2 linked regions of the Homo sapiens genome follow. The protein of the gene in region 1 interacts with the protein of each later gene in a pairwise test. Each region holds a gene or a part of one and is shown in the gene's direction. Other genes may lie near its edges.

Region 1 (7,022 bases):
GGAGATTGGCCTGGGCAATGTAGGGAGACCCCTTCTCTACAAAAAGAAAAAAAAGAAAAGAAGGAAAAGTAAAGAAAAAAAATAGCTGGGCATGGTGGCATGCGCCTTTAGTCCCAACTACTGAAGGCTGAAACAGGAGGATCCCTTGAGCCCTGGAGGTTGAGGCTGCATTGAACTGTGATCATGCCACTGCACTCCAGCCTGGGCCACAGAGCAAGATCCGAGAGTGAGAGAGAGAGAGAGAGAGAATGAATGAATAGTTAGTATATGTTCCACAAAGAATGTAGGACTTTTCTGGGCACTAAAGAATGAGTGGCGGCATTAGAATAGTAGCATGGAAAATAGTCCAGCCAGGGGACAGAACAAAGGCAAAGAAGCGGGAATGGGCTTAGCAGCTCTTAAGACAGTGCAGAGATTTGTCTGATGGAGGACCAAGGCTGAGTGGTGGGAATTAATGGGAACTGACTGTAGTGTGAGGCCAGATTGTGGTGGGTCTGAAAAGCTGGGCAGAAGGATCTAGTTTAGTTGCCATAGTTAAAAGACATTTGGAGGTGTTTTGAGCATTGGAGCTATGTAGGTAACATTTAGGAAAACCTCTCAGGCAAGGATATGTGGGAAGAGGGAATGAAGGGAGAACTTGGAGTTTCCCAAGAAAGCCAACTAGAAGGATACACTAGCCTTGGGCCAAAAAATTAGAATAAAGGTGGGGCCGGAGAAGAAGGGATAGACACCAGAGACGTTTCAAAGAAAACAAAAGAACTGGACTTGCAATGTGTGACTAGGTAAGTGTTGAAGGAGAAAAGTAAAGATAACTTTGACATTTTTAGTTTGAGTGGCCGGGGAAAGGGTGGTTTTCTACTTGCTAAGATAAAAAAGTTGAGAAGACAAGTAGATTGGAGAGAGGGTAGGGTAGGAGTTTAAGTGAAGAGGCTGATGCTGAGCCCACCTTTCAAGTAACATTGAGTTATTGGAACTCAGTTGGAAGGCCTGGTGGGAGAGCCGAAGGAAGACTTGAGGGTGAAAGATATCCACGTCCAGGTGCCAACGTGACCCAGAACTGAGGAGCATAAGGAACTATTGGTGCAAATAGGGTGAGGCGTCAGAAGTGAAGCGATCACCAGAATTAGGGAATATAGAGGGTTCCAGGTGGATCTGAGCAGACTCTGTCAGTCTAGTATTCTCCACAGTGAGTGCTTTCTGATCACTTTAGGATTTCTGTTTTGTTTGTTTGGTTTAAGACAGGGTCTTGCTCTGTCACCCGCTTTAGGATTTTTGTTTTGTTTTGTTTTGTTTTGTTTTGAGACAAGGTCTCACTCTGTCACCCAGGCTGGAGTGAAGTGGCACCATCATGGCTCACTGCATCCTTGACCTCCTGAGCTCAAGCGATCCTCCTGCCTCAGCCTCTCTAGTAGCTGGGACTACAGGCACGTGCCACTGTAACCGACTGAGTTTTGTATTTTTGGTAGAGACAGAGTCCCACTGTGTTGCCCAAGCTGGTCTCAAACTCCTGGTCTCAAGCATTCTGCCTGCCTGAGCCTCCCAAGGTGCAGGGATTATAGGCATGAGCCACTGCACCCAACCCACTTTAGGATTTTGTTAATTTAGAATTATTTAGCCTTCTCATTTCATTTTCTCCAGACTCTCCTAGGTATGAATATAAAGAATTCTCCTTTTTGGAAACTGTTAATGGTATTCAAAGAAAAGGGAGTTTATGAAAGTCTATATCAATTTAATCTATACCTCTGAGAAAGCCATTTTTTTTAACATGAAGAAGTATAAAATATTGTGTGTGAAGATTAAGCCCTTTCTTGCTCTATGTATTTGAGCCTAGAAAAAGACACACTCCCAAGAAATTAGAATAAAGGGAAAAATGACTTTGAGATGTACTTTCTTAAAATAACTGAAGTAATGACCGCATGAGCCAGCTGATGGGTTTTTAAATGGATACGTTTCTATCAGCCTGCTGCTTGATGCCAGAGCCAAATATATATGGAGTGTATTATATCATATCCTGTAGGCAGGAGACTGTTGGGGCATTGGGGGACTTAGAGAGGTGAAGTGGCAGGCTTGGCACAGGAATTAACAGCATGGCTACCGTCAACCAGAACTTTATTAGGTCAACATTACTGATTGGGTTCATGGTTCCCTATTATGTAACAATTTGTATCATCTTCTCGTAAAATAATATCTAATATTTATTATAAGAATGATAAGAATACCTGATATTTATAGAAATCTTTAATATTAAAGTGTTGCTGTACTCATTCTCTCATTAATACTTAATTATTCTCATTTCTGTTTTTTCTTGTTTTACTTTGTAACTACAAATCCACACCCCCGAGTCTGATTCATTGCTAAAAGTGGCCTCTTTTTGGTTTTCAGCTGCAGGGGCAGTATGGGTGCATCCTTAGTTGCAGGATGCTACTTATATCTGGAGTGCTATAGACCACCAGGTTAAAAGGAAGACAGTAGGTCTGGGAAGGAGGAATAGATCATAAATTGATAAACTGCTTTTCTTGCCAGAAATCATTATCAGCGATTAAGAATATTCACAAAGTAGACCCTCCCCCAACACACACAGAGTGTGGTTACTATGCCAGGAAATAAGAATGGCAGTTGTCTTTGTGGTTTAAAACCTGTTTGGTCTGGATTTGATTTGTAAAATAAATCTGAATGAAGTCCATAATGCATTTAAATTCACACATGCTTTACTATGTCTATATGTCAGACTCATGGACAGTGGCCTAGCTTACTGGAAAATTTCTAGAAGAGTTTTAGGGTTATTTTCCCTTTTTATTAAGTTAAAGGCCTGTTTGTTTTCCTATATTTTATAATCAGCCACCTTATTGAATTCTCATTATTGTTTGTAGTAGTTTTTCATTTGATCTCTTTGGAATTCTCTAGATATAAGGTGACTTCATCTATAAATAATAATGATTTTATCAGCTCGCCTCTTATTTCTCTCTTATCTAATTGCATGGATTCCTACTTCCAGAACAGTGTTGAAAACACCCCGAGTTTGGCACCTTACATGCATGAAAACTGTAGAAGGGAAATAAGCTATAGTACCAGTAATATCTTGGGAAGCAGAAATTAAACTTAGGGGTAGATATTCTTACTCTTAGAGGAACAAGTCTACAAAATGCAGCCTAAGGTGCACTTTATCAACATATTTATAATTCTCAACCACCCATGGAGATATAGGAACCTATGGAAAACAGTGGGTTTTCATCAGTCACATCTTAGAATTCTCTGGGACCTTCCTGGAAACCTCTCTGTTTTATAAGGTTAGAATTTAAGGAGTCATAAACACACCCCAGATGTCTTTCATGAGTATTGATGACCACACTGTTCTCTTCCAGGCCCAGCTTCGGGCATTTATCCCAGAGATGCTCAAGTACTCTACAGGTCGGGGAAAACCAGGCTGGGGGAAAGAAAGCTGCAAGCCCATCTGGTGGCCTGAAGATATCCCCTGGGCAAATGTCCGGAGTGATGTCCGCACAGAAGAGCAAAAGCAGAGGGTGAGAGTTCCTCTGACTGAGTTGCCTGGTTGCTTTTCCATCCTAAATTAACCACCTCAATTTTTGTCATTTCTACATCTTGTGCTAGAAAGTCTTTGTGTAATAGTTAAGCCTGTCCCTCCAAAGACTGATATTCTTTGATTTATAGCCTTTTCCATTTGTCGCTCCATCACTATACTATAAAGAGAAGACTGGGTTGAGTTGATGAATTTAAAATGTGTCTTCGGGGTTGCCTTTTGGAGCAGTTTTAATTTTATGAAGTGCTTGGGAAAGTCAAAGAAACTTGAAGTAAAAGTATTAATCACTTTGAACACTTAGAAATGCTTTTATTTCTGGTTACTAAAAATCATTGTTGAAAATGTAAATATGGAATTAGAGGGATATGAAGTCTGCCAGCTGAGTCTGCTAATAACAAAACTTTTACAAGAAAGACTAAACTACCTACCATTCCTTACTTTTTTTGCGTATTTATTTTTCTTTTTCTTTCTTTTCTTTCTTTTTTTTTTTTTTTTTTGAGACAGAGTCTCACTCTTGTTGCCCAGGCTGGAGTGCAATGACGTGACCTCGGCTCGCCGCAACCTCTGCCTCCCGGGTTCAAGCAATTCTTCTGTCTCAGCCTCCCGAGTAGTTGGGATTACAGGCATGCACCACCATGCCCAGCTAATTTTGTATTTTCAGTAGAGATGGGGTTTCTCCATGCTGGTCAGGCTGGTCTCGAACTCCCGACCTCAGGCCATCCGCCCTCCTCAGCCTCCCAAAGTGCTGGGATTACAGGCGTGAGCCACCATGCCTGGCCACGTATTTATTTTTCATTTAGCTTGGAAGTTTACTGAGAATCTTAATATGCCATTCTTGATCAGAATAATCTTTCTTTGCAAGAAGTTTAAGAGTTTGGCCTCAGGTTGGAATAGGGTGTAAACTAGACTTTGATCAAGAAGAAACCAATGAGAAGCCCTCTTTGATACTTCGTACACAGCTTCTTTCTACCAGAACCAGTCTGTGGGAGGTAATCCTAGGAGAGTCTAATAAGAGGTTTGGTTTGGTTTGATTTGATAAAGAAGTAGCTGCTTATTGCATATTGGGACTAAATAACCAAAGTTCTTTGTGGCTTAATGTGCTTTTCCGGTCATTTGGTGACAGGTTTCATGGACCCAGGCACTACGGACCATAGTTAAAAACTGTTATAAACAGCATGGGCGGGAAGACCTTTTGTATGCCTTTGAAGATCAGCAAACGCAAACACAGGCCACAGCCACACATAGTATAGCTCATCTTGTACCATCACAGACTGTAGTCCAGACTTTTAGTAACCCTGATGGCACTGTCTCACTTATCCAGGTGAGTAAACCTGAGGGCTACCAGACTGTGGCTTCTGAGATGGATCAGTGGGCACCTCACCTCAGACTAGGGAAAGTTTCCTTTGTGCGAACTCTTGTATGAACTTTATATAGCTCCCCAAGATCTTCCTACCTGAAATTGATTTCTGAAGAATAGTTTAAATTCTTTGCATTTGCTAAATACAGAGCTATGAGTAGCTTCCTGGACATTTCCAAAACAAAGCACTTTTAAAGGGCTCTTTTTTTTTTTGAGACAAGATCTCTCTCTGTCATCACAGCTCACTGCAGCCTCAACCTCCCGGGCTCAAGTGATTCTCCCTCCTCAGCCTCCCGAGTAGCTGGGACTACAGGTGTATGCCACCAGGCCTGGCTGAATTTTTTTTTTTTTTTTAAGTAGAGATGAGGTCTTGCTATGTTGCCCAGGCTGGTCTCAAACTCCTGAGCTCAAGTGATCCTCCTGCCTCGGCCTCCTAAAATGCTGGGATTACAGATGTGGGCCACCATGTCTGGCCTTAAAATGACTTCTGTTTTACAGTTTCACTCTCAGTGATCAGGGAATATTCCTTCTGAATGACCTCTTCTGAGGTAAAACACAATTTGTTGATTGGGAACCTCTAAAGTTCAGATTGAGGTGAGAATAGAAAGTTGGTTGACCAACACTGGGCATGGATGTGGCGATGTGATAGCTTTTCTCATATGGACTTATTTGGTTGAAGTAAAATTCTGAAACTCGTGATAGTCTCTGAACTATGATTTTAGTGAGCTATGATTTTAGATTTCACATCATAAGGCATATTCTTTGTTATCTGTGCTGAATTTGGGATTAAATGAGTCTCAGCTTCTGAGTAAAGAGGTGGAAGGATCCATCCACTGACACTTAACCACTTTCCATATTTTTCTTTAGGTTGGTACGGGGGCAACAGTAGCCACATTGGCTGATGCTTCAGAATTGCCAACCACGGTCACCGTTGCCCAAGTGAATTATTCTGCCGTGGCTGATGGAGAGGTAAGAAAGAGATTCCATCTGCATCTTCTTAAATACTTGAATGTATAATGAGGGAAAAGCAAGGGTCCAGAAGATGGAGTAGCCTGCATGTCTGCGGCACTCTTTCATTTAAACCTTTTAAAGAGCATGAGACCATGAAAGTTTTAGAAAGTGTCTTATGCTATGTGTATTAATTGTAACAATTAAGATTCATGGATTAGTATGTCAGGAACTTAGAATTTTACATTTGAATGTATAGCATTTGGTATTATACACAATACAAAGGGATTATCCCTTTACCATTTTTATGCTGTGAATCCCAAAGAATTTCATCTTTGGTCTTTATGAAAAAAAAATGTCACATTAAAACTGGAACTGACTAAGGGAAGCCTTCTTTGAAAGGATAAATATGTTTGCAAGTCAGTAACATGATTTATTACATCTTAAATATGCCTTTGAAAAGATTTCTTAGGAGAATTCTTCCTTACCAAAATTGGGATAATTATGGGACATTAACCTAAAGACAGCCAACCTTTATTGATCACTTGGTGGGCTAAACACTCAACCCTATGAAGTATAAAGTTCTGTTATCTTCACTTTAGAGATGAGAAAACCGAGACATAACAGAGCTTAGATGATTTGCCCAAAGTCCCATAGCAGTGTTGAAGCTGGATAATGCATTGAGAAAAACATTACCTAGGCTCTGAGCCATTGGTGAAGATGCAACAGTGAAGGAAGGGGTTTGTTACGTCACCATGAGTGTTTCCCTTGAAGATACTGATGTGGTGTGCTGAAGTTTGAAAAATAGCCAACAGATGTCAAAGAGCAGTATCAGAAATAAAGCTAAGAGTATTATCTCACCCTTGTTGAGAGCCATGGAGCATTTCCCCTTAGAACACCACAAAGTCACTTTCATTTGTGCCCCTCAGGAGAGGGGGAGAGCTGGCAAAGGCCACATGGCTGGGAGATGGAGGGAGAGTGCACCACAGGCTCCTTGGCCACCCTGCATGTGCCAAACCCCTGTGTAGCTGCAGCTGTGTGGAGTTGATTCGCACAGGATCCTTGCTGTCATGGGACTCCAGTCTAGTGGGGAAGAGAGATGTCTACGTGAATGAACTCTAGCCTTCCTGTAAGGGATGCTGCAAAGCGTATGTGCCTCCTTTCCACCTAAGGAGCCTG
Region 2 (7,616 bases), on another chromosome or scaffold:
TTGAACAGGGTTAAAAAACAACCTGACTCTGTGGCTGCTTCCTCAGAGGCTCCATTGGAGTAAAAATCTGGATATAGTGCCAAGTTCTCTGAGAGGTGCCCAGACATTCTGGGTTTGTAGCAGACACTGCGGGTGTCCTGTCCTTATCTTCTTGCAGTCACTCACACACCCTCACACTCAGGGCTCCTGCAGAGCTCTGTGTGATGGCACCCCAGCTGCCTACGAGGTTGACCTGCTCATCAAGACAAATCAGAGAGCCCCCATATGGGCAAGAAGCCTAATTAAAGCAGATGCATTTCACTTTGCTCTTCTAAGCAGGTGTAGTTTTTGAAAATTGCCTGTAAATCATATATTGGTACATTCAATTCCACTTTGCTATTAAAATTGTCTTTATTAAAAATAGAAACTTAAAGAATTAGAGAGATTTCTTTTGGGAAAATATTTGCTCCAAGACATAAGATCACATTTAAAGAATGAAGCCAATCTTCAGAAATCAGACGCTTGATAATAATAGTCACGATGGTTTCATATCTGTTGCCCTGTTTGGCCCTCTTATTATTGAGGTACTGAGGAGAAAGGAGAGGTCTAAGGTATGTGGCATGTGACTTGCCTAAGATCACATATCTTGGCAGTGGTAAAGCTGTTTCTAGGCAAACTGTACTCAGGGCAGGAGGCTCTGGGAAGATTCCTCAGGCCCTGGGCTTTGACAGCTGACCTGTGACTGCCGTGAATCCCAGCCAGTTTGGCAGAAGTATTTCACCAAGTTCTATTGGCTATGAGGGGCTCCCATGAACTTTCCAGGGTGGATGTGATATTGCCAAGCCCAAGGTCAACAGGACAAATTTGGTTAGCTGTGAAGGAACTGCCGCAATGGGACTACAGTCTTTGCTCAGGCTCCATCCAATCCTCGATGTCTCTTGGATTGGATGTGCTGTTTCTTGACACCTCTACCTCATTCCCACAAGTAAACACATTCTGCAGCTTAACCTAGCCTGCCCTAGAATCTGGGCCTCACTTTGCTTCTCCTGGTGGAAAGAGAAAGAAAGGGAACACATTGATGCCCGTTTAACTTACTATCATCTGAAGATGATTCTGGGAAACAGTTGGTTCCTTTTATGTGTTTATTAAGTATTAAGCTCCTGCTGTGGGCTAGACCTTGCAGTAGGCACATGCAAAATTGCTATCAGCTAGTGTCAAAGCAGGAAGACTTTCAGATGGTATCAAAAACCACAACCAAAACTAACCTAAAAACCAAATCACCTAAAATCTGCATGTAAATGTCTCCACTTGCTCCTCCAAACTTTATGCCCTCAAGTCTGCCTTTGTAATTCAATTTAAACCAGACTTCTCTGGTAGAGCTGGTTTGTTAGGAAGGCACAGTAAGTACGGTATAATTCGCTTTACCATAAACCACCTTCTGAGAGTCTGGGATCTGCCCAGAGCCTTTCCACTGGACTACTTTTACCTATCCAGAAAAAAATCCTTGTTATTTGGTTAGAAGCAATCATAATGTACAAAATAAACACAAAATATTAATGCACATTACCAAAGCTTATTTTCCTAACACAATACCAGCTTTAAGAAAAAAATCAAAGTGGCATTTTAAGTATACAGGGTATACTGGGTTAAATAGATATTTGGTTTTATCATTTCTCTGCCCCCATTGCAAAACACCATATGCTGCAACATTTGGATCCACAGATGGTATGGTTTGACCCACCTTAGTTTGAACTTACATTTTAGGAGTTGTGAAAATCTTGTGCAATTCCTCTTGCCCTTTCTCACTCTGACTTGACAACTGATATACAGGCAGAGCAAGATGAGAGATGTTCCAGTCCCCAGCACAAAGCAAGTGAAATGGGTGGACCTCATGCACTCACTATCAACAGCTCTGCCATCATCTTATTGCTTTTTAATGCAGCTTAGAGTTGGCTCCTTGGTTGCTCGTGCTCCCATTTCCTAACCCTTTGTGGTCATTGCTAACTTTCCTAATGGAATTCATTGATCTGGGCTCAAGGCTCTGGGGAAGACAGAAATCACTAGATAAAAATCTTACAGGGATTGTGTTGGGACAAATGGTTTTTGTTGGGTCTTGGAGGGATTGAAGGTTCCCCTAAAATGAGTTGTTAGGCACTGTGTATTGAGATAGTTCCACCACTGGTGAACTCTATTGGGCATATTTTCTGCACTTACCTGTGCATTGTAGTTTGGTTTACTATTTGGATTTGGTACTCTCAACTTACATTTGTTTAGTTGTCATTTACTGAAGGTATTATCAATTTGGTTTCCCTTTATCTTCCATAGTGGAAGAGTTTCATGTCTTTATGTGCTATTCAGGAGGACGAAATCCACTCCATTCCTTCTGTATTACATCTAGTATAGCTTACCATGTCACCCACCTTGGGCACCTGTTTGGCACCTGTATGTATTTGATTTTACAATCCTTAATCCAGTCTCCAGAGCTTGTTGGTCTCAGGGCTGGAGTCCTGGCTTCACCATTTGCTAACTGTGTGATGATGGACAAGTTACTTACCCTCTCTAGGCCTCAGTTTTCTCATATCTAAGATGGGGATAAGAATAGCACCTAGCTCTTGAGGTTGTTTTGAAAGTTAAATGTGGTAATCTACATAAACTGCTTAGCATGGCATCTGGCACACAGTCAGATCTCTGTAAAGGTTAGATATTATTATTAACCACTATTCCAGTTAACTACTCCTCAGAAAGTGGTGTTCAGTAACAAGGGACATTTTCTAGGGTCAGCCTAAATTGCGACCTAGGCCATTGGAACTATTGGCCATGAAAGCACAATTATGTATTGTAATAGGCAATAGAATATGTGGCTCTGACATTAGACTAACATCCATCCCTTCAATATAGGGACCTTAGGCAAATTAACCTCTTTCTTACTCAGTTTCTTCTTTTAAAAAATAAGCATGATAATAGCAGCCACTTCATAATATTGTGATGAGGTGCAAATGAGTTAATGCATGTAAAGTGTTTAAGCTATTAACTCAACAAATATTACCCATTACTGAAAACATCAGAGTGTGCCACCTGCTAAGTAAGTGCTTCTGGGGAGATAGAGTATTTCAAATTGGATTGTCATGAAAAATTTGGAAAATTTGAAAGCTAAAACTCTTGCTTTCATTTCCTACTGCCTCAATTCTCTGTATTCTGAATTTACTCCCTGTGTCCCCCTAAAATTGCATTTGCAAAAGCCGATCTTCAAGTTACATCCAATGCCCGCTCTGCCTCATCTTCTATGGGAAACAAGAATTTTAGAGGTCAGGTAGCCTAACACCATCAATTCTCAAAAGAGGAAGCTGAGGCCAAGAGAAGTCCTGTGAATTTCTTACAGCTCATTTGTGACAGACCAAGAATTACCCACTTTACTGGGTTGTTATTTACTAAGTGACAGTGAGTCTATATCTCTTTTGACAAGTGAGGTGGGGGCATGGAATTCGGCATGTGGTTGGTGTAAGAACTCCCCTCTCTCCTCTTTAACCTTACTTAATAAGACCCTGGCACAGTTGATATTTTAAGAGGGCTACTCTGTTTTCCCAGAGGGACCTAGGCACGGTAACCCTCTTAGCATGCAGACCTTGTTTCCTGAGGGGTAATGTTTCCCTTCCCTGTGACTTGTTTCTTGGGGGCTGTGTTCTGATTTTCCTGCTGAGCCACTTGTTGCCTTGGGCTGGCTGCCGCGCTTGGCAGTTTTTAGTGAGGGCTCTGATAGATGCCAGGAGGTGAGGGGAAGGGCTCTGGGTGGACTCCGTCATTGGACAAGCAGACTTAGTGATGGATGAGCCTTCCCCTGAGGAAGTTTTGGATCAGAAGTCCAACTGATAAGTTTTTCCAGAATTGAGTAACCCAGAAGCAGTGCCGAAAGGATCTTACCTCTCTTGTGGCTTTTTGTATTGATTTTAAAAGAAATTCTCAGAGGCAGTTCCACATTGTACTGGAAGCACAGCTATATCCACAATAGGCTTAGATATATGTAACATGAATTGCTTTAGAAATAACATTTGAGGAGAGGGGTGAGAGGAAGGAAGAGAGGGTCTTAAAAAATAGCCCTATCAAAATATTTTCTTTCTTCTAAGTATTGAAAAGACACAATATAACCCTTTCTTCTTTCAAATGATCTCATAGCTATTTGTTGAGGGGAAATACCAAATGTTTATTATTTTTTTTGAAGAAGCTTCTTCGGTCCTGATGATTCATGTTGATATCATTTTCCTCCTGACTACAGAGGCTCTGAGACAAAGCTACACCTCAAGTGATATGCCAGGGTCAGAACAATTCCCGTCCTGAAGGAGGGTGTGCAACCTTCTTTATCCCTCCTTCACAGACGTCCTTGAGCCCTTGAGACGGATGTGAGTGAGTTTTTCAGTCCTCATGCAAAACAACCATCTAAACATAACAGATGACATCAGCTTGGGCTTTTCAATTCCTGGATGGCAGCAGCGTGTTAATCCAGCCTTCATCCTGGATTTCATAAACCAAAACAAGAGAGCCTGGCAGGAGGACAGCGCTGCTGCTGGGTTGAGGAAATTGATGACGGGAAAGCATGCGGGCAACCCAGTGTATAAAACTCATAAACGTGTAGGCAGAGGCTCAGCTACCAGTTTGGACGGCTGCTTCCCACCAGCAAAGACCACGACTGGAGAGCCGAGCCGGAGGCAGCTGGGAAACATGAAGAGCGTCTTGCTGCTGACCACGCTCCTCGTGCCTGCACACCTGGTGGCCGCCTGGAGCAATAATTATGCGGTGGACTGCCCTCAACACTGTGACAGCAGTGAGTGCAAAAGCAGCCCGCGCTGCAAGAGGACAGTGCTCGACGACTGTGGCTGCTGCCGAGTGTGCGCTGCAGGGCGGGGAGAAACTTGCTACCGCACAGTCTCAGGCATGGATGGCATGAAGTGTGGCCCGGGGCTGAGGTGTCAGCCTTCTAATGGGGAGGATCCTTTTGGTGAAGAGTTTGGTATCTGCAAAGGTAAAGAGTGACCCCTTACCTCTCCCCTCCCGGGGCATGCTGAGAGCTTTTAGCCAGCTTGGGAGGTGAGGTGGCTTTGCTCCTCAAGAGTAAGAGGGAAAAGGCAGGTGGATTCTTGACAAGGCACCACACAGGTATTGTCATGGGTAGAGACTGAAGGATAGCTCCAAGTAGCAACTGAAACCAGTGTGCAGGAAGGCACAGAAAGAAGTGTGGCATTTTACTCGTTGCCTTAGGAGATCGCAAAAAGAAAGCTGCAATGGAAGATTGTGTTGGCTCCTTTTCTGGAAAACTTTAGAAACTTGACAGGTAATCTGTTAAGGATGGCTTAGGTGCTCTCTCCTCTGCGAGGCAGCGATTACAAAGGTCTGCACTAGATAACCTCTTGGAATGGTTTCTAGCCCCCAGATTTAGTGATTCTTTGATCTTGAAAGGGTCCACAGGATGGAGGGCCACTCTCAAGATCAAATATTTCTGATAAACACAAATGCACTTTATGGAATAGAGTGAGCTTAAGTCATCTAACAAAATAACTCACTCTTCAAAGAGGGTCCCCTGAAGCATAAAACAAACCTCATCTGACTTTATAAAGGTTTTGGTCATCTGGAAAAATAGCAGATGGTGTTAAGACAAGGAAAAATAACAATAGAGAAAAATAAAAACTGGAAGTCTGTAAAGAATGAGGTTGACCACTTGTACACTTAAAGAAAAACTTCGTCGGTTGAAATTTTAGCTAAATAATGTAGTTAAGCATTTGTAGAATTTATTTTAAACATAGTAACTAGTTTAAAATATTTAACATTTTAAAAATGTTTAGAATAAAAAGAATGATGATTTAAAAATACTCTACGTATAGATATCTCATGATCTTATTATGAAGAGCTATTATTAAGAAGCAACACATGCTATAACCCCATCCATCAGTTGTGTAATACCAGGAAGCTTTCAAAATTATAAAAAGGACTGAGAAATTTCTAAATAATTATTATGTTTTATGTATTTAATACATTTTTTATGAATAATATTTATCCAGTATTGTGCTAATCTCATTAATTCTCCTACTTCTTAGACATATAATGTATAAATTAATCATCTTTTAATTTGCAAGACATACAAAATTAAAAAAACAAATTCTTAAAGTATTAGGAGAGTTTTATTTTTTGCTTAGTTTATTTTTGTTTATATACAATAAGAAATAGAATATTGAGAAAATATTTTGTTTGGTGAACACATATGCATGTTTCTTTCAACTGAATAGGATCTGTATATTTTGTAAATTATGGGGCTTATTGACCAAGAAAACAGTACTTCACATAAGGAAATTAGGGAGGAAGTGGTTAACACAATCATACTTATGATATAGCATGTATATGCAGTGGATTGCTTTTTCTCTTGGCATAATATGCCTTTGTACATGTGATTGTAAATGTACATTACATATGGGCAAAGAAACAAGCTGTGTGGCATCTGGAGTCTTTAGCACTGTAGTATTCTACTGAATGATCAAGATACTAAAAAGATCTTTAAGATTGCTTCTTTTGGCTTTCTTCAGGTTGCTGATGAATCTAGTTTTAAGCATTTTTCTCTCTGCTGGAAATAGGAGACTTTGTGAGCCTTAGCAACTCGAGATAGAGATAATACATTTGGCAATCATCTCCCTTCTTCAGCTTTTTAAAAGAACATCCACGTGAAAACTGTAAACTTCAGCTGCGTATCCAAATGTCTTCTAAATATTCAGATGTCTGTGAACATCTTGCCCAGATTAACAATCAGCAGCCAACACATATTTAATGAACACTTACTATCTGCCCAGCACTGTTCAGTACATCAGGGGATACACTAGAAGTATCTCTGGGAATTTGGCTAAAGTTTTAGTTTTCAATATCGCTGCAGGCACAGTCAAATCCTAATCCTGTGTGCTTTTCTGGAACAGGCCTTTGCAGGATCCCTTTTTAAGATCTCTTCTTCCCAGCAAAGAGAACAGTGTTCAAAACCAGGTTCCTCTGTGATCTGAACCATATTGAAAAGAGCACTCATAGATCTCTTTAAAAAAAGATAGCTCATTGATGATCTACTTGGTCAGTTAGTGGAGTATTAGACTGCTAGAGACTCAGATGGCTCACAATTTGTTCTTTACCCACCTGTGATTGTACATTTACAAGGTATTTTCACAACAAGAGAATATTCTATATCTATTCTGCTGGCTTTTAAAGGTTGGTTAGTCTACTGAGATGCTGTTTATCCTAAAAACAGCATTTTAAATAATTTTATGCATTTTAAATAAACGACTTTGTCCTCTTTATTTCAATGTAGGATGTTTTGGCATAAGTGTAAGCACTGGAGGTCTAAAAGCTTCTAGTTCTTGGTAGGTGTACAAACCCTCAGGGTGTATAAGCCCTGAGCTTTCTTGCTCATTTAGCATCTTGCATGTTAGCCTTGCAGAGGATTTTACTAGGGAGCCCTCTTAACTACTGAGGGAGTCAGGCAAGTTGTATGACATGCCGTTTCGACAAATAAGGAACTTGATAAGGGTTGGAGCAGATGGAAGATTGATTGCTTCATGGTGAGCTAGGATGATAGCTCTCTCCCTGGTTAGTTTGAAGCCCTTTCCTATACACTTAAA

The links. The genes of interacting proteins can lie anywhere in the genome.
Region 2: the proteins of NRF1 (region 1) and ESM1 interact in binary tests that used the Homo sapiens proteins (3 or more experiments, as listed by UniProt).

Annotation. Positions count from the first base shown.
Region 1 is NC_000007.14:129,705,713-129,712,734, forward strand, and holds part of NRF1 (nuclear respiratory factor 1), read left to right. Parts: intron 1-3,362; coding exon 3,363-3,521; intron 3,522-4,661; coding exon 4,662-4,859; intron 4,860-5,762; coding exon 5,763-5,864; intron 5,865-7,022. UniProt on the Homo sapiens protein: Transcription factor that activates the expression of the EIF2S1 (EIF2-alpha) gene. Links the transcriptional modulation of key metabolic genes to cellular growth and development.
Region 2 is NC_000005.10:54,982,594-54,990,209, reverse strand, and holds the start of ESM1 (endothelial cell-specific molecule 1 isoform a precursor), read left to right. Parts: upstream 1-4,616; 5' UTR 4,617-4,692; coding exon 4,693-4,993; intron 4,994-7,616. UniProt on the Homo sapiens protein: Involved in angiogenesis; promotes angiogenic sprouting. May have potent implications in lung endothelial cell-leukocyte interactions.